Homo sapiens: one gene and its partners. The protein of the gene in region 4 purifies or fractionates together with the protein of the main gene of each other region. This does not show direct contact. Each region holds a gene or a part of one and is shown on either strand. Other genes may lie near its edges.

What was found.
Region 1: the proteins of RETREG2 (region 4) and CHD1L purify together in Homo sapiens (affinity purification with mass spectrometry; one large-scale study listed by BioGRID and IntAct). This does not show direct contact.
Region 2: the proteins of RETREG2 (region 4) and ABCD3 purify together in Homo sapiens (affinity purification with mass spectrometry; one large-scale study listed by BioGRID and IntAct). This does not show direct contact.
Region 3: the proteins of RETREG2 (region 4) and GOLGA3 purify together in Homo sapiens (affinity purification with mass spectrometry; one large-scale study listed by BioGRID and IntAct). This does not show direct contact.
Region 5: the proteins of RETREG2 (region 4) and HPSE purify together in Homo sapiens (affinity purification with mass spectrometry; one large-scale study listed by BioGRID and IntAct). This does not show direct contact.
Region 6: the proteins of RETREG2 (region 4) and CCR9 purify together in Homo sapiens (co-immunoprecipitation; one large-scale study listed by IntAct). This does not show direct contact.
Region 7: the proteins of RETREG2 (region 4) and SLC25A19 purify together in Homo sapiens (affinity purification with mass spectrometry; one large-scale study listed by BioGRID and IntAct). This does not show direct contact.

What each region holds. Positions count from the first base shown.
Region 1 is NC_000001.11:147,248,751-147,252,766, reverse strand, and holds part of CHD1L (chromodomain-helicase-DNA-binding protein 1-like), read right to left. Parts: intron 145-4,016; coding exon 32-144; intron 1-31. UniProt on the Homo sapiens protein: ATP-dependent chromatin remodeler that mediates chromatin-remodeling following DNA damage.
Region 2 is NC_000001.11:94,515,569-94,519,472, forward strand, and holds the end of ABCD3 (ATP-binding cassette sub-family D member 3), read left to right. Parts: intron 1-1,483; coding exon 1,484-1,561; 3' UTR 1,562-3,095; downstream 3,096-3,904. UniProt on the Homo sapiens protein: Broad substrate specificity ATP-dependent transporter of the ATP-binding cassette (ABC) family that catalyzes the transport of long-chain fatty acids (LCFA)-CoA, dicarboxylic acids-CoA, long-branched-chain fatty acids-CoA and bile acids from the cytosol to the peroxisome lumen for beta-oxydation.
Region 3 is NC_000012.12:132,804,681-132,808,696, reverse strand, and holds part of GOLGA3 (golgin subfamily A member 3), read left to right. Parts: intron 1-147; coding exon 148-806; intron 807-1,408; coding exon 1,409-1,520; intron 1,521-3,674; coding exon 3,675-3,981; intron 3,982-4,016. UniProt on the Homo sapiens protein: Golgi auto-antigen; probably involved in maintaining Golgi structure.
Region 4 is NC_000002.12:219,176,798-219,181,303, reverse strand, and holds the start of RETREG2 (reticulophagy regulator 2), read right to left. Parts: upstream 3,030-4,506; 5' UTR 2,952-3,029; coding exon 2,671-2,951; intron 2,596-2,670; exon of another isoform or gene 2,383-2,595; coding exon 2,276-2,382; intron 1,572-2,275; coding exon 1,541-1,571; intron 1,195-1,540; coding exon 1,059-1,194; intron 635-1,058; coding exon 550-634; intron 243-549; coding exon 99-242; intron 1-98. Other genes in the region: protein CNPPD1, read left to right, coding at 4,476-4,506. UniProt on the Homo sapiens protein: Endoplasmic reticulum (ER)-anchored autophagy regulator which exists in an inactive state under basal conditions but is activated following cellular stress.
Region 5 is NC_000004.12:83,303,532-83,307,547, forward strand, and holds part of HPSE (heparanase isoform 1 preproprotein), read right to left. Parts: intron 2,787-4,016; coding exon 2,672-2,786; intron 1-2,671. UniProt on the Homo sapiens protein: Endoglycosidase that cleaves heparan sulfate proteoglycans (HSPGs) into heparan sulfate side chains and core proteoglycans. Participates in extracellular matrix (ECM) degradation and remodeling.
Region 6 is NC_000003.12:45,889,189-45,893,204, reverse strand, and holds part of CCR9 (C-C chemokine receptor type 9), read right to left. Parts: intron 1-4,016.
Region 7 is NC_000017.11:75,286,382-75,291,093, forward strand, and holds the start of SLC25A19 (mitochondrial thiamine pyrophosphate carrier), read right to left. Parts: upstream 3,053-4,712; 5' UTR 2,973-3,052; exon of another isoform or gene 2,708-2,972; intron 2,211-2,707; 5' UTR 2,121-2,210; exon of another isoform or gene 534-2,120; intron 422-533; 5' UTR 384-421; coding exon 252-383; intron 79-251; coding exon 1-78. UniProt on the Homo sapiens protein: Mitochondrial transporter mediating uptake of thiamine diphosphate into mitochondria. It is not clear if the antiporter activity is affected by the membrane potential or by the proton electrochemical gradient.

The DNA of each region.
Region 1 (4,016 bases), on a different chromosome or scaffold from region 4:
GGTGAGCAGTACTCGTCGCATAGTAACACACCTGGCAGGTCTTCCCCAGGCCCATCTCATCTCCCAGGATACAGCCATTCTGACAATGGAAGCGCTGGGCGAGCCAGTTTACTCCCTCCAGCTGGTAAGAGCGTAGGTGAATCCCTAGAAACAAAAAATACAGCAAATCCGAAGAGCAGACATTTCAGTACATGCAGAGGCAATGTTCTAAGAGTTTGAATGAGGAACACAGCCTAAATTCACATAACCCTAAACCTCACTGGACGTATCTTTTGCTGAGGAGTTATGGATATCTAAACATCTGCTGACTTCCAAACTACTTTTTGAGCAGACTTATTCACCTTTATATTCAAAGCCCCAAAGTAGCCTGTCATTGTTACCTGATTCACTTGATAAATGAGAAAGTCAACTTGGGATCTGGCCTCTATACTGCCTGAGACTCACACCAGTGTCCATTCTGGGAAATGAGGCATTACTGATGCAACTTAACAAAGAGCAACAACACATGGATTGTACATGTGTCTGCTTGTTTAATTGCACCCATTTAAATATGCCATCAATGCTAAAGGAAAAAACTTAGGACTACACTGAATAATGCTTCAACACAGAAGCGCTGTTTTTAAGAATGGAAATGATGTTTCACAAAGGGTATTTAACTGTGTACAGGGATGGCAGAAAACGTGTGAAATTAATACGGAACTTACTCTCTTTTCTCTTTCCCTTGGTGAAAAAAATCCAATTTCAAAGAATAGCCATATCTTGGGAAGGTGAAAGACCTTAAACATACTTTATATAAGAACTATTAGCAAAAACATAACTATCTGGTTTAACTTATACCTTTAAAAAAATCTTCAAAATACATAATTGTACAAAATTTAAAAAATAAGTTATTTTTCTTAGGCACTTACAAATACCAGAGTAGTAGTAAACACTTTACATAAATTACAGTATCTCACGCCTGTAATCCCAGCACTTTGGGAGGCTGAGGCAGGCAGATCACCTGAGGTCAGAAGATCAAGACCAGCCTGGCCAACATGGTGAAAACCTGTCTCTAATAAATAATACAAAAATTAGCTGGGTGTAGTGGCGGGCACCTGTAATCCTAGCTACTTGGGAGGCTGAGGCAGGGGGAATTGCTTGAACCCGGGAGGCGGAGGTTGTAGTAAGCCGAGATCGCGCCACTGCACTACAGCCTTGGCAACAGAGCGAGACTGTCTCAAAAAAATAATAATAAAAATAAATAAATAAATTACAGTATCTCATTTAATGCTTATAATGATTCTATGGAGTAGGTATTATCCCCATTTTATAATCAGAAAATTCAGAGATTTCTGTTTCTGATGGGAGTATACTTACTTTCCCTTATTCCTCTTGCTAAGTACAAATAAAAACCCTAGACATGCTACAGAAAACAAGCATAAAACTCTGAAAGGTGTAGTGAAGAAGCAGACTGGCTAGGGACCTTGGGCCTGCGGAAGGCAGGGTAGTAAGTTCCCTGGAATTTATTTTTGCTTTATATATCCCAGTCTGACAGTTCAAGAAATCAGCCAACTGGAAACACCAACTGATGTAGACCAAAACCAAAACAAATAAGAACACCTCCCAATATTAGTCTCTTCTCATGCTGCTAATAATACCTGAGATTGGGTAATTTATAAAGGAAAGAGGTTTAATTGACTCACAATTCCACATGGATGGAGAGGCCTCACAATCATGGTGGAAGGCAAATGAGGGGCAAAGTCACATCTTACATGGCAGCAGGCAAGAGAGCTTGTGCAGGGAACTCCCATTTATAAAACCATCAGATCTTGTGAGATTTATTCACTACCATGAGAATAATATGGGGGAACTGACCCCATGATTCAATTATCTCCACCTGGCACCACCCTTGACACGTGGAGATTATTACAATTCAGGGTGAGATGTGGTTGGGGACACAGCCAAACCATACCACCCCCACCCCTCACAAGCCTGCTCCAGCTAGAAAATGGCAGCCTAGCAAGACAGGAAACTTTTATATAATAACTGCTCTATTCTAGTAAACACCACAGGAATAAACCTGTGGTCCCACCAGCAAAGGCTAAGTGGAAAGCATAGACTTCTACCTACAGCTACAACGAGTGCCCCAGCACCCCAGCCAGGATGGTATAAGAGAAGGCCAAGTAGGGAGCTGGGATTTTTATCCCCACCAACCAATAACGAGGCCCTACCCCTTAGCTTTCCCCTGCAGGATCAGTAGAGACTCAGGAGGGAGCCACAACTCCCACCCTCACCCAGCAGGATGGAGGAGCCCCTTCCCAATCCCCAGATGTGGACAGAGGCTGAAGGGGGAGCCTGGACTTCTATCCCCACCTGGCACTAACAAGGCAGCAGACCCTCTTCCCCTGCCAGAGCAGCATCAGACAAAGACAGTCAAACAGGAGGTTTAAACATGATTTAAAAAAAATGCCTGGCTCCAATTCTTATAAAAATCATTCATTATATCAAGAACTGGGAAGATTTCAAACTGAACGAAAAAAGATAATCAATAGGTGCCAACACCCAGATGACACAGACGGTAGAATTATCTGACAAAGACCTTAAAGCAGTAATGATAAAATGCTTCAACAAGTAGTTATGAATGCACTTGAACAACTGAAAAAAACAGGAAACCTCAGGTAAGAAACAGAAATTTCAGCAAAGAAATAAAAGATATAAAGACCAAAGGGAAATTTTAAAAACTGAAAAATAATATAACCAAAATAAAAGGCTACTGATGCTGTTGATGGGATCAACAGCAGAATGGAAGGAAGTGAGGAAAGAATCAGTGAACTCTACAGAATAGAAGTTATAGAGAGATTACAATCAGAAGAGAGAGAAAGCAGACTGAAAACAAATGACCCTCCGGGACCTTCAGGACTACCACAAAAGATCTAACATTTGTTCAATGTTGTCCAATAAAAACAGGTGAAGGAGGATAGGGCTGAAAAAGTACTTAAATAAATAATAGCTGAAAACTTCCCAAATCTGGCTAAAGAGCTACAGTTTCAAGAAACTGAGTAAACCGCAAACATAACAAAACATTGCCGGGCGCGGTGGCTCACGCCTGTAATCCCAGCACTTTGGGAGGCCGAGGCAGGCGGATCACGAGGTCAAGAGATTGAGACCATCCTGGCCAACATGGTGAAACCCCATCTCTACTAAAAATACAAAAATTAGCTGGGCGTGGTGGCGGGTGCCTGTAGTCCCAGCTACTCGGGAGGCTGAGGCACGAAAATTGCTTGAACCCAGGAGGCGGAGGTTGCAGTGAGCTGAGATAGCGCCACTGCGCTCCAGCCTGGCAACAGAGAGAGACTCTATCTCAAAAAAAAAAAAAAAAAAAATACACACCAAGATATGTAATTATTAAAATGCTGAAAACAAAAGACAAAGAAAATATCTTAAATGCAGCCAGAAAAAAAACAAACAACACCTTACTTAAAGAGGAAAAACTATTCAAATGCAAGCAGATTTCTTGTCAGAAATCTTAAAGGCCAGAAAGAAATGCCACAACATGTTTCAAATATCGAAAGAAAAGAACTGTCAATCCAGACTCCTGTAATCAAGAAAAATGGTATTCAGGAATGAAGAGGAAATTCTCAGATGAAGGAAAACAAAGAGAATTTATCATCAACAAACCTACCCTCAAAGAATGGCTAAAGGAAGCCCTTGGAAAAAAAGGAAATGATAAAAGATGGAACCTTGGAACATCAAGGTGAGAATGCAGCATTCAAAAACGTGTAAATACAATAGGTTTTCCTTTTCTTGAGTTTTTAAAATTATGTTTGACCGCTGAAGCAAAGATTATAACAGTGTCTGATGTGGTTCTAAAGGAAATATTTAAGACAATTATAAACAAAAAGTAAAGCTATAAATACAAAGGGAAGATAGATATACAGGGAAGTAATGTTTATATAAAGGGAAGTAATGTTTCCATACTTTACTCAAATAAGTAAAATGACAATATCAGTAGTCTGTGATTTTATACACACATACGT
Region 2 (3,904 bases), on a different chromosome or scaffold from region 4:
GGTCAGGACTACAAGGGGGAAGATTGAATAACATAAGCTATGTTTATCAATGTACTGTAGTAAGTAGGATTCATTAGATAGTCACTATAATTTACAAAGATATTCAAATGAGGCTTACATTGGTGCACGTGTATTACTTATTCTGGTGCTTCAGTAGTGCCATTCTCACTATGTCAGTTCTTTTCAACTCAATGTGAAATGCTCAAAACCTGAAAGTAAACCCAGTTTAATTCTCTTTATTTTCTTTCCTCCTCCCTCCCTCCCTCCCTTCCTTTCTTCCTTCCTTTCTTTTCTTCTTTCCTTTCTGTCTTTCCCCCTTCCCTCTTTCCTTTCTTCTCTTCTTTCCTTCTTTTCCTTCCTAAATGATATAGAAATTTTAGGTAAAAGCAAGGATTTGAGAAAAATTGGAATAATGGTAAAGGTGCCTTGTTCCACAAAATACATACCTGATTAAGGACCTTTTTTTGCCAGATACTGAGCTAAGTGTCATGAGGGATGCAAATTAATTACAGTTTTTACCTTCAAGAACTTTAGGATGTAGATGATAGTCTACAAGTGATAAAATGAAGAGCATAGGATTTGAAGTCAGAGAGCCTGGGTTCAGGCACCAAAGTTTCTAGCCTCAGTTGCTTCCTTTGTATAATGAAGTTATTGAGCCTTACCTTCCTATCTCTTAGATTACCATGAAAATTAGACAGGTAGCCTATATGAAAGTACTTAATAAAATTCAGTGAAATTCTATATAACTGTGTGACTTTTAAAGATAGCTTTTATTATTTTATGGCATATTATAACTTGTCAATTTTTCATGAACTGAGCAGGAAATTGAATAACTAGAAATCAAAGGCATTTAAAATATAGCCAAGCCTTTATGTTTTCTCGGAAGTTCATAAGTATTATAGCCATAGGACATTGAGAGGAATTGAGAGCATTTGGGTTTCACCCTTCCTCTTCTTTTGGAGGTATAGACAAGTAGCAAAATAATCATCACGCCAGTGATCATGTGAAGGAGGGGAACACAACTAGAATGTGAGGGGCCAGGATAGCTAAGAAATAGTAATACAGAAAATGGAAACTCAGAAAGCTTTCTGAAAATAAGCCACTAAATAAAAACAGAAGGCTTTGTAACTGCTGTTGTGTCTTCAGAGGTTAGGATATATCGGCAGTTTTTATAGCTCTTTTTCCCCTCTACTAAATTAAAAACAAATAAAAAGCCTTAAGCTGGAGATTTCAAGCTGATTAGGAAATCAGGCTACAGGAAACAATACTGACTGACCTATGGAACAGTCTTGCATTTAGCACAGTTTAACCTACTGGTAGCTGAGATCCTTGGTCATGGAGTTACGGAAGCATTCTGATTTGTGGGATGCTTATAGATTTAGCTCCCTTAAAATAATGAGGAAGTCTGTATTTTACTTTTCATAAAAGACAGTACTATATTCACTCTTAGTTACTGACTTTTTTTCCCCCTTCTTTCCCATAGTACTACCTGCATATGGATGGCAGAGGCAACTATGAATTCAAACAGATAACAGAAGATACAGTTGAGTTTGGCTCTTAGAGAAATCTGGAGAACTATACCTGCTTCAGTGAAATAATTACAGAATATACTTAGAAAGGCAAAGTACATTGTAAAATAAAGTTGAGCTTAGTTTTTTTTAAAAAAAAAAACAAAGCAACAAATTAACTAGATACAGAATAATGGAGAACAAGTTGTTAAAACATTTAATATTATATAGGATATTGCTAATTGTGTATATGTTGGTTTAATTAATAATATGTACTAAGAATGTCCTTATTCTTGTGGTTAAAAACCTGCCTAAATTAAATTGGGCTTCAATCACTGTAACCTGATTCATCCTGGGATGTAAACCATTCGAAGTCAGCTAATTGGACTTTTATGGCTCTATCTTTTCCTTCAGTGAAGAACCCTATTTAAAACTGGGTCATCATTTGTCCTGTTCTAGCAAGATAGTCTTCAGTTTCATTTTCCTGTGCCCTGTGGTAGTTGGAAACAAATCATAATGTATTATTTAAATGTTTAACATCATTGCATAACAGCGTTTATTATACAGTGGCAGATTTCTTTAGCTGCCACAGTAATACTCATTCCTTGTGTGTGTCTTGGAGTGCATTTGACTCCAGGAAAAGCCATTTTGGTTTTCCTTAACTAAATGATAAATGTACCCCTCTCAGTCTGCAGTATTGAGTTGTTTAAAGTATATGTGCAGTCTTGCTTACAAGGAGGGGTTACCATGTATCACACCTAATCTTCCCAATGTTTGGGATATTAAAACACAAAGTCCTTAACATGCCAGGCTCAAGGTCTTATAAGAGTTCTAGATTTTTAAGAGAATTAGACAAATTTGTGTGTGTTAGAAGCCCATTCATTAGAAGTGTGGTGGTTATTTGGTATTAAACTCCAAATGAGCCATAGGAAGGCACTACATGAAATAATGCACTGAGTATGCAATGCTATCACTGTCTTTGACTGTGATTTTATGTTTAAAAAGTATGTTCTAAAATTATTATATATACATGGGTGAATTATGTTTCCGAGGCACTGTTTTATCTCTGTGAATCTTGAATAACTTTTTTATATTTGGGTTATGATGTCAAACGATCCTAAGCGAAGATGATTTCAGTTCATCAAATCATCATTAATGACTTTATGTATTATTTGCACAGGGAGAATTGAAACTGAGTATAATCAATAAGCTAGATACGAAATCAGTTTCTCAAACTGAGCTTCAGAAAGGGGCATTTTGTACTCTTGTTTTTGCATAACTGGTTTTGTTTTTTTGCAGAATTAACTATAACAATCACTGGCTACCGAAGTAAACTGATGTACTGAATTCCATAATACATAACATTCAATTTTTACCACTTCTGTTTAGCGAACTTGTATACTTATTTTCTGTTCAGATTAAAAAAAAAAAAAAAAAACTCAGATATCCTATACAACCTTTGCTTGTTCTTTTTATTCTGGTATCTAAATACTGAGAAGTTCATTTATAATTCAGCCTTGACTTGAAAACATAGATAGTTTAATCTTGACTTGAAAAACACAAAAATAAATTCAGAAAATGCTTTTAGCACAGTGTCTCTTTTTTAAAGTTTTGCCAAGTGTGGTTTTTAATTGAATGAATTTCTCTTTTAGAAAAGTTCAGTAAAATCTGTGTACCTGACAAATGCTACCAAACAGCCAGGAGACCTTAAAAGATACTATTCGTCTTGGAAAAGATTTTAAGGCATGGGAAAGTTTCAGATTTTCAGATTTCTGGGTTACCTTAAACCTACTCGTAGAAGTATTCTCCTAGCTGCCTTATAATTGCTTTTGTTATGATTCTTGCCATCAAAACAACAACAACAACAATTTGGGCTTTTTTTCTTAATTATTTTCTTTTTTATGTAACAAATATTACAGTGCCTCACCATTTGAGGCACAGAGGAAGATCCTTCTGGAGAATCACATTAACATAATAGTGGTTCTTCGAAGACCCACAGTAAAGAAATCCATTGGTTCAAAAACATGATTGACCACGGAACATCTTTTTCTACATAATTCCTATTAACACCTTCCAGAAACTGCAGTGGGAAATGGTAGTTTAATCCGAAGAATAAACCAAAGAATAAGAACTTTCATCCATGAGCACCACGCTGCATGCCAAGACATATCACCGTGTTCTCATAATAAGTTTTTACTTTTTATATAATGAGAAAATAAGTATGAAACAGCAATGGTAGTTTGTTTTGCATTAATAGAATAAAATATATCTAGCATTTGTCTCTTTCTCCCCTTTCTGAATGATTAACATTTGGCTTAAAACCGGTGATATGATAGCATCTGGCATTACTTTATGTAAAGTTTTAACTTTTAAATTTGGTGTTTAAAATCATAATT
Region 3 (4,016 bases), on a different chromosome or scaffold from region 4:
ACCCTGTGTGGTGAGGGGCTGGGGAGGTGGTGCTCTCTGGTTGTCAGCGGAGGGAGTAGTGATCGGTGCCACCTTTCTGAATGGCAGTTTTAAGTATGCTGCTTGTGGATTTTAAATGTAATTTTTGTACTTTTGTTTTCTTCTCAGTCCAGTCAACCTGCAACCAAAACGAGACTTTTTAGCACGCTTGATCCTGAGCTCATGTTAAACCCAGAAAACTTACCAAGGGCCAGTACCCTGGCTATGACAAAAGAATATTCCTTCCTGCGCACCAGTGTCCCTCGGGGGCCTAAGGTGGGCAGCCTGGGGCTTCCGGCACATCCTAGGGAGAAAAAAACTTCCAAATCAAGCAAAATCCGGTCTCTGGCCGATTACAGAACTGAAGATTCAAATGCGGGGAATTCTGGGGGAAATGTCCCGGCTCCCGATTCTACCAAGGGTTCCCTGAAGCAGAACAGAAGCAGTGCGGCGTCCGTTGTGTCTGAGATCAGCCTGTCCCCCGACACTGACGACCGTCTGGAGAACACCTCCCTGGCTGGAGACAGCGTGTCTGAGGTGGATGGAAATGACAGCGACAGCTCATCGTACAGCAGCGCCTCCACCCGAGGGACCTATGGCATTCTGTCGAAGACAGTGGGCACGCAGGACACCCCCTATATGGTCAACGGCCAGGAGATTCCTGCGGATACCCTGGGCCAGTTCCCCTCCATTAAGGACGTCCTCCAGGCCGCAGCCGCTGAGCACCAAGACCAGGGGCAGGAGGTCAACGGGGAGGTGCGGAGTCGGAGAGACAGCATCTGCAGCAGGTGGTGGGGACAGCAGAGGTGGGCGGGGTGGGTGGAGGTGGGTGGGGCCAACAGAGGGGGGTGTGGGGCGGGCAGAGGTGGGTGGGGCGGTAGCAGAGGTGGGTGGGGCCAACAGAGGGGGCGGGGTGGGCAGAGACGGGCAGGGCAGGCAGAGGGCCTGGCCTGAGATGTTGCTTCCCGGGCCCACGGCTCTCCGCACTGGAACAGGTGATACACAGCTTTTCTTCCTGATTCTATCCTTAGTCTTGACATGAACATTTAATTCATAACAAGTCTGCTGCTTTTTAATCAGTAGAATTAGATCAGCAATGGTCTGTGTTACTAAAATATCCAGTCTCCCGTTTACATAGACTTGTCACTAAGCTGCACGACGCTTGCATGTCTCATGTTTCTGTAACAGTTCCCACTGCGTGAGGTGCCAACTGTTGGCAGGAATGTTCATCCGTGCATCATGCAAGCCTCAGCTCTCTACTTAAATCTCTTACTTAATTTTAAAAAATTGGGAGAGAGCAGCAGGGGTGTGTGGAATTTGGAGAATGTGGAGGAGTGTGAAAGAAAATGAGGATGGCTCGCACAGGCCTGACCCGTGCCTTTGTCCCCAGCGTGTCCTTGGAGAGCTCTGCAGCAGAAACACAGGAGGAGATGCTGCAGGTGCTCAAAGAGAAAATGCGACTCGAAGGACAGCTGGAAGCCTTGTCACTGGAGGCGAGTCAGGTAACGGACGTTCGACTGACATCTCAGCGTGCGGCGAAGTCGGAAAGCATGTGTGGCTCCTCTGTTGGGTACGAGGTTTCACAGATGTGGTTGGGAATCAGCCGCCGCAGCATGTGTGGCAGCCGAGGGTTCTGCATCTTTACGTTTTTTGTCTACTTGTCAGCCTTAGAAAGAGTTGTGAGTTTTCTGCCTCATCGTGCATGGGCGTGTTTCTCCCTGCGTCTCTACCAGAATATTTGCTAGATGTTAGGTGTCTCACAGTCCATAAGAGTCAAATTCTCTTGGTGGGTTGCAGCTTTTTCTGGCATGGTGAACCTTTTTTCTTTGTAGTGATTTCTGCTTTTTCTGATACTAATTGTGCTGTATCAGAGAAAGCTGCACACGCTGGCTTGGTTAGCATGTGCCAGAAACATCATTTTCCATCCCTTATTTCAGCTCTCCTTTGTCATTTTGTCGTATGCACTTTATCCACAGTGAAGAGCTAGGTATTTATCTTCTGTCGGCAGTTGAGTAAATCTGTTCAGTGGGGTTCAGCTGTCCGCTTCTGGCGTGGGAGGGTGAGAATGCACCCAGGCCCTGAGGTGACACAGCTGAGGGAGCCTCCTGTGGCCTGCGAGGCCGCAGAGCAGGGCTGGAGCTGCTCACAGTGTCCGGAGCTTGCCTTGCTAAATGCACGCCTCATGTCGAAGATGGTTTTCTCATACAACATGGTCCTTGGACACAAACCAACCAGTTTGTGACACCTAAAGCTGTGTCTACAGAAGAGGTGATTTCGGCTGTTTTGAGGCTAATTCTGGTTGTACGGTCGTCACTTCTCCAGTGTTACAGCGTGAGCCTCCCTCCGTCGGATGCATTTCCCCTCCTCTGTGTAGCCACTCTCTCGAACGGTGGCTTGCTGTCACTGCACTTTGTCTTCTTATCCTCTTAGGATCACTGATTGGTCCTTCGGTTGCATCCACACCAAGATCGTGAGGGTTGTTTCAGGTGTGGTGGTTGCTGGCCCCTTGCTCTAGGGTCTCCTGGAGTTTGTGGAGTTCCTCAATTGCTTTGGGTGTTTGTTGTCTTGGTGATGTGTGAACTGGATCCCTGCCCCTGTAGGCCTCAGCGTGGGGGCAGGTGGTGGGGCGATTTCCTCTGGCGATTCTCTGCTGCTCCTGGGACCACACAGCACTGCGGTGGCCACTCAGGACTGTGCTGTGTCCCGTGGCTCTGGCTGGAGCCGCACTTAGGCAGCCGCCTTTCCCTGCCTGTGTTTTTTGCCCATTTCCCCCCAGATCTGAATCCGCTTTTAATCTCTCAGGGGTCCCTCTACACGTCTGGCATTCTGTGTGTGTGCGCATACATGTGCACCCGTGTACACGTTTGGTGTTTTGAACACGTTTCCAGTGTCCTCGCAGGAGACGGGTGCTTCCCCAGCCCTGCCCTAGCGCTGCCCTGTGCAGGTGCAGTTGGGCCCAAAACCAGTGCAGGCTCCCTGTGCGTCCTGGGCCTGTTTGGAAAGTCGCCTTTTTCTGTGACGGCTGTGCTGGGAGAGCGCCTGGGGGTCTCGGGGTCCTCTGTCAGGCCTTGGGAGAGCGCCTGGGGGTCTCGGGGTCCCCTGTCAGGCCTTGGGAGAGCGCCTGGGGGTCTCGGGGTCCCCTGTCAGGCCTTGGGAGAGCGCCTGGGGGTCTCGGGGTCCCCTGTCAGGCCTTGGGAGAGCGCCTGGGGGTCTCGGGGTCCCCTGTCAGGCCTTGGGAGAGCGCCTGGGGGTCTCGGGGTCCCCTGTCAGGCCTTGGGAGAGCGCCTGGGGGTCTCGGGGTCCCCTGTCAGGCCTTGGGAGAGCGCCTGGGGGTCTCGGGGTCCCCTGTCAGGCCTTGGGAGAGCGCCTGGGGGTCTCGGGGCAGGGTCCTCTGTCAGGCCTTGGGAGAGCGCCTGGGGGTCTTGGGGTCCCCTGTCAGGCCTTGGGAGAGCGCCTGGGGGTCTTGGGGTCCCCTGTCAGGCCTTGGGAGAGCGCCTGGGGGTCTTGGGGTCCTCTGTCAGGCCTTGGGAGAGCGCCTGGGGGTCTCGGGGTCCCCTGTCAGGCCCTGACTGACTCGCTGGTTGTGTTCCTGTTAATACACTGGATGGAAGTGACTCGTTTTCTTAAAATCATTGTGGTTGTTGGGATCTTTTCAGGCACTTAAAGAGAAGGCTGAGCTGCAGGCCCAGCTGGCCGCCCTCAGCACGAAGCTGCAGGCGCAGGTGGAGTGCAGCCACAGCAGCCAGCAGCGGCAGGATTCGCTGAGCTCGGAGGTGGACACCCTGAAGCAGTCGTGCTGGGACCTGGAGCGAGCCATGACTGACCTGCAGAACATGCTGGAGGCAAAAAATGCCAGCCTGGCGTCGTCCAACAACGACTTGCAGGTGGCCGAGGAGCAGTACCAGAGGCTTATGGCCAAGGTAGAGGACATGCAGAGGAGCATGCTCAGCAAGGACAACACAGGTGAGGCTGGCCCTGGCCACGCCCTCCCCTCCCTG
Region 4 (4,506 bases):
TAAAGAACTGGAGAAGATCTCAATTCCAGGGCATCTCATGAACCCCAAGCCAAGGCCCTCCCGCTCTTTCACCCTCCTGGCTTAGGGCAGCCCCTTACTCCTCTTGTCGTGTTTGTGATGCAGGGCATTGGCTTCTGCCTTCATGCTGTAGTCCAGCTGCATGAGCAGGGGCTCCAGGCGAGTGTACATCCTCTGGATCAGCTCATGATAAACCACCAGGGGCCACAGCAGGATACTCAACACTATGGGTTAAGAACGTGAACTAAGAGCTCCCTACGCCAATTTCCTAAGAGCCCCCATTCAACTGGTCCCTAAACTGAAGTGCTGAAGGTAGGCAAGGTCCTTTCCCAAGGCTGTGCCAACCTCTTCTTGCCACATCCACTGCCCTCCTCCCCAGGTAAGTCTTCCACAGTTACTAATACTAAAGCATCCCTGGAGATCTCCACAAATCAGAAACTGAGCAGAGAGAGCATAGTCTTCCCTCTGGGTCAGTCCAAGGAAAGAAGAAAGGAGAGGGCTTTAAATAGGGCAGGGACAGACCCTACTCACAGACAATGTAGGAAATCATAATCCCTGGAACATAGTGTCCCAACACAGCCAACACAGCACAGCCAGAGCAGACTCGAACGCAGAACTGCAGAGAAGAGCAAAAGTCTAAGAACATCACGCTGAGATATGCGCCCCGCTCGGCTGGGTAAGAAACTACTGCTCAGCTGGTAGAAGGATGGGTATGTACTCAAGGAATGGGGTGGTCCAGTTTGGTTAAGAGGATGCTCAAGACCACCAATTCAGGAAGCTGGCAATACATAATGCCCACCACCTGTAATTCACACTGGTCTGCCTTGGCAGGAGAAAGTGTCAGGCTATCAAAAGCTTATTTCCTGAGGTGAGACTGCCTCCTGCACCAGGGATTAGCTGTGAATGTTGCCTCAAGAAGGCGCCCAGGCCTCTTCTTTCAGGGTCTCCAAGCGGGGAGTTTATATCACTCCACTCCCATCCCCCGCCACCTCTATTCCCCTTCAGTGTAGTGAACTGTTGTATGATGTAGGGGAGGTTACCTGAGCTGGATTCTGCCTCTTGTACTGCAGCAGCTCCTGCAGGTGAATCTGGAAGGTGAGCCAGCTCTCAGCCAGGTATCTGCACAACTCGGGCACACTCAGCAGGTGCGGCCGGGCGCCTGACCCCGCACCCTCACTGGGGAGACATGACATGACCCCTGGAGGCCTCAGATACCAGCTTCCTAGACACTTAAATCCCTCTGAGAATGCCAAAGATATCTTTAGTCTAAAAAAGCAAATGACCCCACCTCTCAAAAGGAGGCTGTCCTGGTCTTAGAAGCAAAGCCAGGAGGACCCAACCCTCTGCCCCAAAAGGAGCAGGCACGCAAACACCTACACAGGAGCCTAGGACCATGAAAAACCCATGGCTTGTTACCAGTTCATTCACAATGCTGGGGCACTGCCCTGCTCCATGGTGACACTGGCACCAGCAAGCAGGACAGGATGTGGGCATTTGTCTTCAAGAGGTGGCCTGTACTCACCTGTCAGAGTGTGGCTCCTCTGGGGATGATGCTAGAGAGAGAGGAGGGGGGCAAATTATTGAGTGGTAGGGGCCCTGGGAGACACTCCCCAAGGCAGAAATAGTTGTCCCTCCTCTGCAGCCCCAGAGCACCTTCTTCAGATGCCAATGGGGGAGCTGTTACATGTTTTTGTTTGCGTCTGTCTCCTTTAGACATTACCCTTCTCCAACATAAGAACTAGATTTTACTCATGCTTATCTCCCAAGCAACTCACATACAGCCTGTCACCTACTAAGTAAATTATATGGATAACAAGAAAAACAACACTGACGTTCTATTTATAAGGCTTATATGTGAAACACTATCATAAGTATAGCATGTGTATTAACTCATTAATCCTCTCCTCACCTCTCTATGAAGTAAGTTCTATCATCTGTGTTTTACAGATAAGGAAATTGAGACAAACAGAAATTGAGCTACTTTTACAAGGTCACAGCAATGGTAAATGGCAGAACAGAGAATGGAACCCAGGTAATATGGCTGCAGACTTCACCATCTTAACCACTGCACCTACAGTAGTATTAGTTTGGGAAAGGGGCAATTCTCATTTTAGGGAATTCCGTACAAAAAGGAAGTGGGCCATGCCTGGGAGGCAGGTGGCCTGCTGTACGTTCCCCTCGCCACTTAACCCCACCCAGCGGAATCAGGCACCAAGCAAGTACCCAATGGGTGCTTACTGAATGAAGAAACACTCACCTGAAACGTCAGGGAGAAAGCGAGGCTGCCAGAGATCCAGCAGAAAATAGGCCAAAAGTGAGACGCTGAGTAGGAAGAAGGGCCGGAGGGACGAGGAAGACAGCAACCTTAGGGAGAGACAGGCACCTCAGCAGTGAGTGGGTGAGACAGGCTCATGCATCCATCTCAGAAGGTGGAAAGGCGCCTACTGATGGGGTAATGGCACCTCCAGGCCTAACTCGCGACTCACGACTCAGAGATAGAAAAAAATGGGCAATTCAAGCGGATGTCAGCCTGCAAAAACTGGGGATGGGTCATGCCCCCAGGCCAAGTGATAACCCAGAAAGGGGAATGGTGCTCTCGACCCCTCCCTCCCCCGCTCATCCCGGCCCCGCCCCCTCCTCCGCGGCCGTTACCAGAAGAGGCCGTTGAGCGCGGCCGCCGTGACCAGGCTGTGCAGCGGCTTCTCCCACACCAGCAACCGCTGCGCCGCCGCCAGCACCGCCTCCCAGCCGCGGAGCCGCAGCCACAGCGTCGTGGCCAGGCGTCCCACCGCCTCGGCCGTGGCCGCCTCCTCCTCTGCCTCACTGGTGGCCTCACTCATGCCTAGGCTCAGACCCAGACCCAGGCCCAGGCTCAGGCCCATCCCCGGCCCCCCACCCGCGCCAGTGTTACCCCCGCCACCGCCGCTCGCCATAGCCCCGCCGCAGCCGCCGCCCGAGCCCGCGAGGAGCCAGGGCTGCGCGGCCGCCGCCGGGGGCGCGTCAGGCGGAAGGGGGCGCCGCGGAGGACAGCAGAGGTTGCGGACGAGCGTCACGTGACTGCGGAGCGCTGAGCCCGTCACGTGACGCGGCCTAACCCCCCCCCCCCCGGATAGGGCGGGCCGCGCATGCGCCCCGGCGGCTGCCGCTGACACTGCGCCTACACAGGTTCGTTTTCTGGTTGACGAAGTACCCCGGGTTCCGAGTCCGGGTCTAGGTCCAGGCAGTCGAGCCCGTTTTCTTATCCCACAGTAGGCAGGGCGGCTAGGGAGTGTGGTGCTGCCCCGGTATCCCCGTGTGGGGCAGGAAGTGGGCTTCCAGATTCCCAGTATCCCCGGTAGGGTCTGCTTCTGCTCGCTCGGGAAGGGCGGTGGCCGTCCCATTACTCAACCAACCCTCAACGCACTGGTCCTCCCAGTTCCCTCCCCTCAGTGGGTAAACAAACACACACCAGCGCTTGACTCGACAGACTCGAAAACAACATCTACTCAGAAAAGTTGTTTCTTTCCTATCTCCTTAAACTTTCCCACTTCCACATATCGGAGCTTCTTCCCACCTCGGCCTACTCAAGCATGAGATCGGAGGCGGGAGGTGGGTTTCAACACAAAACCTTGGGTAGATGCAGTTTACTTTTGGGTGGACGTGTTGACACGTTTTGAGGCCTTACATTCGCTTAAGATCACAGAATTTCCTCAGTAGCCTTAGGTTTAAAAGTTCAAATTACAGTAAAAAAAAAAAACACCCTGAGTTTCTCTTCCTTTTCATAGTTCACCCACTGCTAAATTTCCTGTGTGTCCTTTCAGACGCTTTTCATATGCATTGCTGAGTATGTATAATATCTCTCCTAAAAAGCAACTGGGAACAACTTCCTGTTGTGCGTTTCGTCTTATTCACATTAACTTCTCCATTGCTACGCCTGGCTTGTTCATCCTCAGTGCGGCGTGGTCCCCCCTACGAATTGTCCCCATTTCTCAGAGGCGCCTGGGGCTTGGCCACGTTCCGTGAGACCAGGAGTTCGAGTCCGGTTCCTGCCCGCGGGTCGGGGCGGGAGGCTGGGCCAGATGGGCGGCAGGAAGTGCCAGGCGCTGACTTGCAGGCGGCACCCCCGCGGCTTGTAAACGCCGGGCGGACGCGGCACAGGCGGAGTACGCGCCTCGCAGCCGCATCTCCTTTCTGCTCCGCGAGGTGAGCGTCGCACGGACGCTTGACACCTCCCTTCCCGGGCCTAGGGCCCCCGCGCGCCGCGCCAAGCCCGGGGCGGAACAGGAAGAGGCGCCCAGTTCAGCCCGGGCCCCGCCTTCCGCCGCCGGGGGGAGGGAGCTGCGAGGGCGAGGGCGAGGACGGCGGCCCGCCCCGGGGAGGCAGGCTGGCAGGTGGACAGGCGGGCAAGGACAGCTCCGCGAGCCCCCTACAACTCGTTTCCTTCCGTTCACCTTCGCAGGGCGGCGACTGGCGGCGCGATGGACCTGACCGGGCTCCTGCTGGACGAAG
Region 5 (4,016 bases), on a different chromosome or scaffold from region 4:
TACAAAAAGGATACATACTAAAATATGTATTTTTTTGAGACATGGTCTTACTCTGTCACCCAGGCTGGAGTGCAGTGGTGTGAATGCAGCTTACTGCAGCCTCAACCTCCTGGGCTAAAGCGATCCTCCTGCCTCAGCCTCTCATGTAGCTGGGACCACAGGCATGTGCCACCATGCCCAGATAAGTTTTTGATTTTTTGTTGCCGTAGCTGGTCTTGAACTCCTGGGCTCAAGTGATCCTCCTGCCTCAGCTTCCCAAAGTGTTGGGATTACAGGTGTGAGCCACCACACCTAGCACATACTGAAATATTTATAGATAAAGTAATATATCTGAAATTTGCTTCAAAGTAATCTAATAGGTAGGAGGTGAAAAGTGGGAAGGATTACGGATTAAACAAGATCAAAGTATGCAGGAGGAAATTATATTTTCCTCCTACTCTTTAGTTCTTAGTTGGGATGGACCTCTGTAACAAGACAGAAAACAGGAGAAAACAAACAGAAGCTTGTTAACATGTATATTAATACATGTATGTTAACAGAAAATACCAGGGAACAAGTAATTCTCAAAGAGGTGGCTTAGAACTCCAGCTTATAGAGCAAATTTTTGGACAAGAGACATGACAAAGGAAAAGGATTTTTAGTCTCTGGGGTGGCAAGTTGTGGGAAGGAAAATAAATGAGTATGTAATATAGATTCTTCTAGTGCCATCTCTACACTGATAAGGGTCTGAAGTTATCTTCAGTGATTAACTCTTGTTTTTCCTGGTAGAAAGGGAAGGAGGGGGACTTTTAAGATTCATGTCCTGCTTTTAGGCAAATGGAGAAGGACAGAGAACTTTTCTTCTATGTGTTTCTTCCCAGTTGCCTTTAGCTCGAAATAATCCTTATGCCAAAGTGGCATATTTTGGGGTGGCATATTCTAGTCTCCTAAAGTGGGTTCATATACTTTCCTCTGTATTTTGTATATGATTAAAATTTTCTATAGTAAAAGTTTTTCTTAAAAAACTGCGGATCGGTGGTGGGCACAATGGTTCATGCTGTAATCCCAACACTGGGAGGCTGAGGTGGGATGATCACTTGAGCCCAGGAGTTTGAGACCAGCCTGCACAATACAGTAAGACCTTGTATCAATTTTTAAAATAATAAATAAATAAATAAATCACCATTCAACACATACCCCAACTTTCCTTCTTGAAAGTAGAGGGAAAGTAGACTTAACAAGACAAATGGCTTTTGTTTCTCTGCTTAAATTCCACTTTTTCACTGGAGACAAGAGTGGAATCAATGTTTTCAAAGGAGACATAAGCATGGGTCAATGACTGGTAGGGTAGAAAGTATGCAGGCCTCAGAAGCAGGATTTGAATGGGATTTTTAAGAGTAACATAGGACTACAGTATGGCTTCCTGTAAATCATGCAACCTCTTCTCAATTTGAACTTCCTTATCTAAAAAATGGATCCAAGATACCTGCCTTGCCACCTCACAGGACTGTCATGCAAATAAAATAAAGTCACAGACATGTAGAGTGAGTTTAAGTCTAATTCTCTTGGATCTACAAGTGAGAAGGGTACCATTTACTCTTGCACATTTTTCTAGCTGACTGAGAACCTTGAAGGAGAAGCATATTTAGTGCATATACAAAGAGTTCGTAAGGCAAAGGTTTATGTCTGGGCCCTGGGAAAATTTGGATGAGATAAAAAGGTCAGGAGTAGATTTTGAATGTTTGTCTGGTGAAATTACTATGCTTAGTTTAACTCTATACATGACAGAATATACTTGGGGAAAGATAAATTCCATTTTTGCAAGATCACTTTTCTAAGAATTTTCTAAAAAAAGATGACTAATATGTTCCACAAGCTTGGATCACTATAGATAAAAAGCAATTTTGTTGGGAAGTCTATCCACAAACCACAAAAGCCTAGCTTATATTTTCACGTACGCTCTTTGCAAAATTTCTTAGCTTTCCTACAACATTCAAATAATTCTTTTAGGAATTATTCTTAGAAAATATATATCTGCAAATGACATTTTAGACTATAAAAATCAAGGTCATGCTTCTCAGGGCTACATCTGTATTATCCCTGACATATATTTAGACATACAGATCTTCCACGAGGCTTTTTGGGAAGAAACATTTCCTGATTTAGCACCAGATACAGTTGGAGGAAGGATTAGAAATAAGACTTTATTCATAAATATCTTGAAGATTATTAACAACATAGTAAATTCTTAGCATGAGATTTTTAAGCAAACACATGGTACTGGCTCATTTTAAGGTTAAATAAATTACAATTTCATAACATAAAAAATGTTTTGAAGCTTTGCGTACTGTAGGCAATTATAACTTTGATTTACTTTGTAAAACATTTGAAAATCCAACTTATTTTGTCTTGTATAATGAGTCATAAAATTTCAAATTATCCCCTTTTAAACAAAATCCACACTATACTGCAAATGGCTTACCTTTAAAAAGTTATTCCTAGCTCTTGATTTCTTCTCTTCAAACACACAAAAAAATGTTAGATTGGATGCTATCTAAGGCTCCTTCTAATTCATCATCTCATGATTTGGCTAGTTACTGAGAGGACTGACTGTTCATAGGAGGTTAACACCAGAGGTCCTGAGTTGACTTTAATCTACTCCACTAGAATTAGGAAAATAATGGTCACTTACAGGTAAAGGATCGAAGTTTTCATCCACTAAATGGTAGTTTCCTGCTCCAAAGAATACTTGCCTCATCACCACTTCTATTCCCATTCGGGCTGACAGGCCCAATTTATCCAGCCACCTGGGACAGAGCAAGACCAAGCTTTCTTGAGGTTTGGAAACAAAATCGCTCAATTCTAATTGCACACCATCTTGATTTTATTTATGTATTTATTTATTTACTTATTTATTTATTTAGAGACAGGGTCTCACTCTGTCACCCAGGCTGGAGTGCAGTGGCGTGATCATAGCTCTCTGCAACCTCAAACTCCTGGGCTCCATTAATCCTCCTGTCTCAGCCTCCCAAGTAGCTGGGACTGAAACCGCCTTTGCAAAAATTATAACTGAGGAAATTATGACAGTGAAAGAGATCAGACCTCATTGACTCCATCTTGCTTCTAACCTTTAAGCTGTCCTTCTTCATTCCTGGGTGTAGGCTGAACTAACTTTGGGAAGAAATTCAGTTCATGGTTTGACTCTGAAACAAAAATGATAATAGCCCTTTTCTGAAAAGACCCCCTTCTTGCCTGGGGACAAGTCTACCTTTGCAGGACTAACAAATTAGCTACAACATTAGAGATTACGGTTTAGGGATAATGCAGCCTCTGGCTCCAAGAGTCTGAACCTCCCCAAATTGTTCCTGGGGATAACATCACTGTTGTAAAACCTAAGATCAGTGCTTGAGATATCTTGCAGACCCTGAACTGGGTGGATCATTTGAGACCACCCAGACCGGTAATCTGGCCCAACCAGTTCTGCCATCCCATCCAGGAACAGAAGACAGCAAGAAAACCTCACTTCCACTCCCTGTGATTCCATCTCCAACCTGACCAACCAGCACTCTCCACTTCCTAAGCCCCTACCGGCCAAATTATCCTTAAAAGCTCTGATCCTCGAATGTTCGGGGAGACTGATTTGAGTAATAATAAAACTCTGGTCTCCTGCACAGCTGGCTCTGCATAAATTACTCTTTCTCCTTTGCAATTCCCCTGTCTTGATAATTGGCTCTATCTAGACAGCAGGCAAGGTGAACCTGTTGGGTGGTTACAGGACCACAAGTGCATGCCACCATGCCTGGTTCTGGTTTATTGATCTTTGAGGGAGGAATTAACAGGAAGCCAGAAAAGTGTCATCAATTATAAATAAGTCATTTAAATGAAATGGCAACTGCATGCAGCAGCAGCAGCAGCAGCAGAATCCCTCCCTTTACATCTTTCCATATGATAACAAATCCTAGAAGACTATTACCATGCTAGAGGTATCCCTTTCAGGGTGAGACAAATTCCCACCTCTATAGACAATTCCTGGTCCT
Region 6 (4,016 bases), on a different chromosome or scaffold from region 4:
CCAGCCTGGGTGACAGAGCAAGACTCCATCTCAAACAAAAAAAAAAAGAGAGAGAGAGAGAGGGAAGGGGAGTGTGGGAGGGCAGGAGGGCAGGTGGGTACAAAGGAAACCTCAGTGGGGGATAAATATGTTCACTGTCTGGGTTGTGTGAGAGCTTCGCAAGGGTGTATGTACGTCAGAACTTACATTCTGCATTTTAATATTTGCAGTTTATTATAATTGGACCTCAATAAAGCTGTTCAAGTAAGGCAGGAAAAAGCAAAGTACGATGAAAACCTTCTGGCACTTCACTTCTCAGTGTCATCTCCGGCTGTCAGCAGGCCCTGAGGAGGAAAGCAACCAGAACTTCCTCCTGGTAACCTCTCTGCTGGTAGCTTTTCAAAAGTGCACTGGAGTGCCTTGTGCTGTTGTAGCCAACTTGAGAGATCACTACGGACCCACGTGGGTTTTTTTTGTTTTGGTTTGTTTTTGTGGGTTTTTTCCTTTTATTTTAGCTTCAGGGGTATATGTGCAGGTTTGTCATATAGGTAAATTGCGCGTCATGGGGGCTTGGTGTATAGATTATTTCGCCACCCAGGTTAATAAGCATAGTACCTGACTGGTAGATAGTTTTTTTATCCTCACCCTCCTACCTCCCTCCATCCTCAAGGGGGTCCCAGTGTCTGTTATTCCCTTTTTTGTGTCCATATGTACTCAACATTTAGCTCCCATTTATAAATGAGAACATGTGACATTTGTTTTTCTGTTCTGTGTTAATTCACTTAGGATAATGGCCTCCAGTTCCATCCATGTTGCTTCAAAGGACAGGATCTTGTTCTTTTTTATGGCTGTGTAGTATTCCATGATGTATATGTACCACATTTTCCTTATCCAGTCTATCGTTGATGAACATTTAGGTTGATTCCATGTTTTTGCTATTGTGAATAGTGTTGGAATGAACATACATGTTCACATGTCTTTATACCCATATGTTTTTAAGATTAAATTAGATAGATAGATAGACAATTTGTATATGTATATGTATGTGTGTTTCACATACATATTTCCTGTCTCTGTCTGCTGAGAGGACCTAAAAGCAATGATACACAGCATAATTAGCACCTAGTGCCCTGATCTTGGAATCTAAATATCTTTCTCCACTAAACAGCCAGGGCTCCTTGGAGACATGTAACTACATGTTGATGGTGTTGGATTTGAAGACCAGCTAAGTTGGTCTTCAAACCCCATACCACCAACATGGAAGCAAACCAGTGTCACATTTGTCCTAAAGAGTTGAGGAGGGAAGACACATCATCTTTATTCCTGGAAAAAAGGTCAACCTAAATCAAAGAATGAGGAAGCATCAGAAAAACGCAAAATGAAGGACTTTCTGCAAAGTAATTGGCCAAATATCAAGGTCAAGTGAGACAAAGAAAAACTGAGAAACCATCTCAGGTTGAAGGAGACTAAAGAGACAGGACAAGTAGATGCAAGGCAAGAACCTGGATTTGGTCCTGGAGTGGGGAAAAAAAATAATTGTGAAGGACATTACTGGGAAATTAAGGGCATTACAATAGGTGCTGTGAATTCGATGATAGTGCTGCATCCGGATTAAATTTCCTGATTTTGCTGACTGCATTGTGGTTTTACAGGAGAATGCCCCTGTTCTTAGGAATTATCCCCTGAAGTATTTAGGGGCAAAAGAGAACAGTGTCTTTGGCATATTCTCAAAGGATTCAAAAAATAAGCAAAAAATGCAAAAAATTAATGAAAACATATGTATATAGAGAGAAGGAGAATAATAAAGCCAGTAGGACAAAATGAAAACAATGGTTTGGGTGAAGGGTTTATAAGCATTCTTTACACAATTTTTCACTTTTCAGTGAGCTTGAAATTAGATACAAGTAAGACTCACAATAAATTTTTAGAAGAGAAAAAAATATTTTGGCAATTGACCCTAAGACACAAGAAAGCCTGGAACAGGACTGTGTCTGAAATAAAAATGAGTAGCCCCAGCCTCCGGCCGTGACCTTACCCAGCCACCTGGGCATTCACCGAATTTCACTGCAGCCCTCTGGGGGCCAGGAAAACACTGACATTTATCTGAAAAATGACTTTTTTTGTTACAAAAGTAACACACGTGTTTGCAGGAAATTTGACAAATACAGAAAAGCCGAGAGGAGAAAATCAAAATCACCCGTAATCTTCCTACCCTAAAATAACCACTTTTAACTTTCTGTTGTTTTCCCTCCCAGCCGTGTTTCTATGCATTCGTACACTTTGAACTTTTATTTTCTTTTTCCCACCTAACGGATTATGAACATTTCTTTCATCATTAAACATTCTTCAGACAGGTGAAGGCATCAGCTACCTGGCATTCCGACAGGGGCTGTGCCCCAATTCATTTAAACATTCCCCTCTGTGGGGCAATTCACCTGCTTCTAACTTCTTTTTATAGTTATTTTGAAATATTTCTCAGGTGAATGAAAGATGCATTTTCTTCAGAAAGGTTGTATTCTGCCCCTTTCCTCCTAAGCCGAAGAACCAAGAACTTTCCCCAGGCAGTATTTCTGAACGGTTCTGACATCTTCAGCTCTGTGGAGTGATTGCTTCCTGCTTGGCATGACTCCAGGTGCCATCAAGAAGCCCAGTGAGCCTCTGTTTTGAAATAAGAAACTCACCCAGCAAGCAGAAAAGCAGCCACTTTGGAGCTGAGCATTACTCTTCTTTTTTTTGCCCCAGATGAAAAATGCCCAGTTGAGTTTGGAAGACCTCAACTCAGCAAATTTTATTTTATTACAGCTTGGGGAATACGGAGGTTGATTTTTGAGATATCAATTAGAAAACACTTTATATATGTTATATATATATATATGTTATATATATATGTTATATATATATTTATATAAATATATATATATGTTATATATATATTTATATAAATATATATATATGTTATATATATATTTCTAATACCCAGGGCTTATGTCACCTCCTTTTTGCTTGCATGAAAGGACTGAATATTAATCATGTAATACCTGAGAAAAATTCCCAAAGAAAGAAACCACAAAAAGAAGAAAGAATGGCTTTGTTATAGTGAGTGACAGCAAGTTTCAGATTGGAAATAGCAATAGATGGTAACGACATTGGTAAGAGTTTGGAAAAAAGGCCTCCACACTGCTGTGAGGAGTATAAATTTATGTGATCTTTTTGGAGGGTTAAGCCATATCTGTCAAAATTTACAAAGCACAACATCTCTGACTCTGCAGCGCATCTGCTTGGAATTTGCCCTACTGGTATTCTCACAAAAGAACACAAGGGTCCAGGTATAGGGATATATGTTGGAGCAGAACAAAAATTGGAAAACAACTTAAATATTCAGCAATTGGTAATATTATGACACATCAATCCAATAAACCATGTGTAGCCAATAAACAAGGATGGTCCTCATGCTGATAGAAAAGAGGTCCTCAAGACTATAAGATTAAAATGCAACATGTAGGAAGACTTATGTTGTGTGATCTTTAAAAAAAAAAAAATAGAAAAAGACATACACTGCACTGCTCACCAGCACCGAAACATTTTCTGGAAGGAGACTGAACCACTGTGACCAGTGGAAAATGAACTTTCATGTTTTCATTTAGATTTTGCAAACTATTTAAATATCTTACCAAGTGTGTAAAATTTTATTTTAAGAGCTGTCATAAAAATAACTTGTCAGATTTAAAAAAAAAAGAAGAAGAAGCCCAATGCTCTAACGTTCAGCACACCTGTTTACAAAACTCATCTAGAGGAGGAACTTGTAGCCTGCTCCAGCTACCGCAGAAAGAGCAAGTCTAGTAATTACATTCACCGAGGCTACTTTATGCAACTAAGTTGTACACTAGCTTTCTATAAAGGTTTCTCTTTATTTTTTTTTTTAAAGGTAATATATAAACACAAGCCAGGCAAGATGGCTCATGCCTGTAATTCCAACACTTTGGGAGGCTGAGGTGGGAGCATCACTTGAGGCCAGGAATTTGAGATCAGCCTGGGCA
Region 7 (4,712 bases), on a different chromosome or scaffold from region 4:
CAGAATCTGCCTAGAGGCCTGGAGGATGCCATGGTACTTTGCGCTGGGGTCACTGCGAGACAGGCGCTCATGCTGAAGCTAGGAATCAAAATAAAAAAGGTCAGGACAGTGGGGTGGGCTGGAATGTGAAGGGGAACTTTCAGAAAAGGCAAGCCCTTCATCTGGATAGAATTCCAAGTTTTAGGAACTGCTTTTGCAAGAAAGACTGAACTTGTCCTCCAGTCCATTGCATGGAAAAAGGGGAAGAGTACCTGGAAACGGATCTTGATGACGTCGAAGGGACTGATCAGCGCCCGAGTAACAAGTCCAGACACAGACCCAGCCACTGCCACCTGGAACTTGGTGTTATTCCTGCCATCTGGTTTGGGGTCATAGCCAACCATCCCTGCCTCTGGCCCACACAATGTCCATCAGTATCAAGCTAAATGCAAGAGATACGGAATAAACACCAGGCAAGTTTCTTATGGTCTCTGCTCAAATATCACCTCCTCAGAGCAGCCCTCCCTGACTAGACTGTCTAAAATAGCACTCACTTTTGGACTGGGCGCAGCGGTTCATGCCTGTATCCCAGCACTTTCGGAGGCCGAGGTGGGTGGATTGCTTGAGCTCAGGAGTTCAAGACCAGCCTGGGCAACACTGCAAAACCCCAACTCTACAAAAAATACAAAAATTTAAAAATAAAATAAAATAGCACTTGTTTTATTCCTCTTTACAGTACTTATTACTATGGCATATTTGTTTACTTTTTTAGAGACAGGGTCTCACTCTGTTGCCCAGGCTGGAATGCAGTGGTGCCATCATAACTCACCATAGCCTTGAACTCCTGGGCTCAAGTGATTCTCTTGCCTCAGCCTCCCAATTAGCTGTCACTTAACAGGTGCAGGCCTGGCTAAGTTTTTTATTTTTGTAGAGATAAGGTCTCAATGTTGCCCTGGCTGGTCTCGAACTCCTGGCCTCAAGTGATTCTCCTGCCTCAGCCTCCTGAATTGCTGAGATTACATGCATGAGCCACAGCGCCCGGCACGCCATGGGTTATTTATACAGTACATTTGTTTCTTGTCTCTCTCCCTGACTAGAATGTAAGCCCGTGGAAACACGACCTTGGTCTCATTTGTTCACTCGTAAATTTCCGGTTCCTGGAATAGAGCCCATCATGGTAAGTGCTTAATAATATTTGAGAATCGAATGAACAGGCTTGATAGGCAATTGTTGGTCCCAGAGATCAACTGGTTTTCCAAGACATCTGGCAACTTTATAGCAAACTCCTGCTCACTGAGTGAGCCCACTCAAGTGTAACGCTGAGGGACTGAAGGACGTGCAGGGCTGGAGAACAGGGATTGGGATTCTTTAACAATCCCCCACTGTCCAAAGGAAGAGCCCTGAGGCCCTGAGCCCCTTCACCTTTCCCTTTCCCCTCCTGCACACACCTCAGACCACCCCGGCACAGTGGGGCCATGCTACGCTAGCAAATGATGCTCCTGGCCAGGCACCGTGGCTCACGCCTGTAATCCCAGCACTTTGGGAGGCCGAGGCGGGTGGATCGCCTGAGGTCAGGAGTTCAAGACCAGTCTGGCCAACATGGTGAAACCCTGTCTCTAATAAAAATACAAAAATTATCTGGGTGTCGTGGTGGGCGCCTGTAATCCCAGTTACTTGGGAGGCTGAGGAGGGAGAATCACGTGAGCCTGGGAGGCAGAGGTTGCAGTGAGCTGAAATCACGCCATTGCACTCCAGCCTGGGCTACAGAGTGAGACTCCGTCTCAAAAACAAAAAAACAAAACAAAACAAAAAAGAAAATGACGCTCCTGGGCTCCCCTGACTCAGACCTACTGACCTCTTCAGCCTCACTCTGGACCACTCTTCCCCTTCCCTCATTTAACCAGAGTGGTCTGACTGCTTCTGCCCAGTTCCTGGAAAACTCGGGGAGCACTCCTATCAATTGCCTTGCCTCTACTCCTCCAGTTCCCTACGTCTGAAATACAGCCCCACTCTCAGCCCCTACTCACTTTTTCAAGGCTAGCTCCTCTCATCCACCAGAGCTCAGCTAAAAAGCATCCCTTCCAGGAGATGTACTTTTTTCCTTTTTTGTAAAAACAAAAAACAAAAACAGTAATACCTACATACGGTCTGTAGAGTTGTACAAAGCATAGAAAGAAGTCTGTAACCACACACATCAACAGGTAGTTGGTAACTGATCACAGGGAGAAGGGCTGAGAAGGGAAAAAGGAAGGTAGACCTGTCGATAATTCTATACTGTTTGAATTTGTTATGGCAAAAAAAAAAAAAAAAAATCCCTAAAACTAGCCTTCAGAATTACCCTAGTTCTTGAATACTTGTAGTAGTGGGGGTGGGGGTGGGGGAGGAGGGGAGATACTACCTACAGGATGGCAGCCTCCACCCCAGACATCAATTCCTTTTCTCCTCTCACCCACCCTGGAACTCCTCCCCAGGCGCCCATGAGGAAGTTTAAACACGCGGCAAGCGACTGAGAGGCAAAACCTCTCCAGGGGTTACCCAGGGACCGCTCAGGTCACACTGAGCAGCGTGTTTCCCGCCCATCTGGGCAGAAAGGAGGAGCAAGCCCGAGTGGCAGGTGTCCTGGATCGCTGTCAGGAGACCGGAGCATACCAGGCTCTTCCTGGTGTTCGGGTGCCCATGTGCCCAAGGGCTCAGCTGAGCAAATCTGCAGAGGTCCCCGTGTGGGTACCTAGGTGTCCACGTGTGCCTCGGGGTGTGTTTTTTCTCCTTGAGTCCGAGGGGACGCCCTGGAGCTCAGGTGCTCAAGGGCGTGCGCGGGGCTCGGCCGCCGGTGTCCCTGGAGATGCTTCTCTGGTCTGGTGTGACACGTGTGTACACAGTCCCCGCCCTCTCGTGAGCGCCCGGGTGCGTGTGCTCCCTCCCGACCACCCTGAGGAGCGAGGGTGCTGGTCCCCGAGAGGGCGGCGAGAAGGACGGAGGTAGAGGTTACTCACACGGCTCGGCGGGTGCGGCCCGGCTCAGCGCTCTCCGCTCTCTCTAGCTCCTCGCGCAGTCTTAACAGCAAAACTCTACTGAGCTCGGACGAAACTGGCGGGCTCCTGGGCCAATCACCGTGCAGCTCCCCGCCAGACGCTGGACCAATGGTTGTGCGCTTGAGGTCTGGCAACCGCCTCCCGCAAGATATCACCGGGTAATGTAGTCCTTCGCGACCAAGGGCAGGACAGCTGGACGGCGCACAGCTTCCTGGGAGATGTAGTCCGGCTGCTCGCGGGCGCGCGAGTTCGACCGACGCGTTAGAAGGAGGTGCCTTGCGAAGCCGGGCTGCGACCTTAGGGGTCGCCGTGCTCTGGCGTGTGACTCGAAAGTCAGCCTGCAGGCGGGGTCCAAGGTTAGGGCGCGGTAGACTTGACCCGCTTTCCTCAAACTCTGTTAATGCCAGAACCCGGATAATCTCAACTTGGTAAAGATGGCAGGAAGCCTAGCAAAAAGCTGGAGGACGTCGGGAAGAGAATAGATGAGAACAGTCCCCTCGGGGACGGGGAAGGCAAAAACACGAGTGTCCCCCCCTCTCACCCCGAGTTTTAGTATTTCTCATTATAAAAGTAATATTAAAAGTATATAGACAGAAAATATAGAAAGGAAGGAGGAAATGACTCATCCTACCGCCCGCACACAACTAGCGTCACGGTTTTGCGCGACAGTATTGCCTCCTGACTTTTTAATTGCATTTTTATATTCGTGTTATCATTTTGACGCACAATTTTAAGACATTTTTATTGTAGAAAATTTCAAGATACACAGAAGTGGAATAACCCGATGAAGCCGCGTAGAGTCGCTCTCCGACCTCAGCAGTTACGCGACTCATGGGGCAATCTTGTTTCCTCTATTTCTGCACCTACCTCGCACGCGCTGCCCAGCGTTATTCTGAAGTAAATACCATCACGTGTTTTCACCAGTAAATATTTCAGTATGTGTCTTTAAAGGACAAGCATTCCCTTTTTAATACGTATACATTATGCTTCACACACACACAAAACTGTCACTCCGACCCCCCAAAAAAACTTTTAATATCAAATATGAATTAGTGTTTACACTTTTCTGAAAGAAAGAAATGTTCTTCTTTTTTTTTTTTTTTTTTTTTTTTTTTTTTTTTTTTTTTTTTTGAGACAGTTTTGCTCTTGTCGCCCAGGCTGGAGTGCAATGGTGCTATTTCAGCTCACTGCAACCTTTGCCTCTGGGGTTCACACGATTCTCCTGCCTCAGCCTCCCGAGTAGCTGGGATTACACGCGTGCACCACTATGCCCAGCTAATTTTTTGTATCTTTAGTAGAGATGGGGTTTTGCCATGTTGGTCAGTCTGGTCTCAAACTTTTTTTTTTTTTTTGAGACAAGAGTCTCACTCTGTCACCCAGGCTGGAATGCAGTGGCACGATCTCGGCTCGGTGCAACCTCCACCTCCCGGGTTCAGGTGATTCTCCTGCTTCAGCCTCCTGAGTAGCTGGGACTACAGGCCTGCACCACCATACCCAGCTAATTTTTGTAGTTTTAGTAGAAACGGGGTTTCACCATGTTGGCCAGGCTAGTTTTGAACTCCTGACCTCAAGTGATCCACCCAGCTCGGCCTCCCAAGGTTCTGGGATTACAGGTGTGAGCCACCGTGCCTGGCTGAAATGTCCTTCTTAAAACAAGTTGTTTGCTTTTCTTTCTTTTTTTTTTGAGACGGAGTCTAGCTC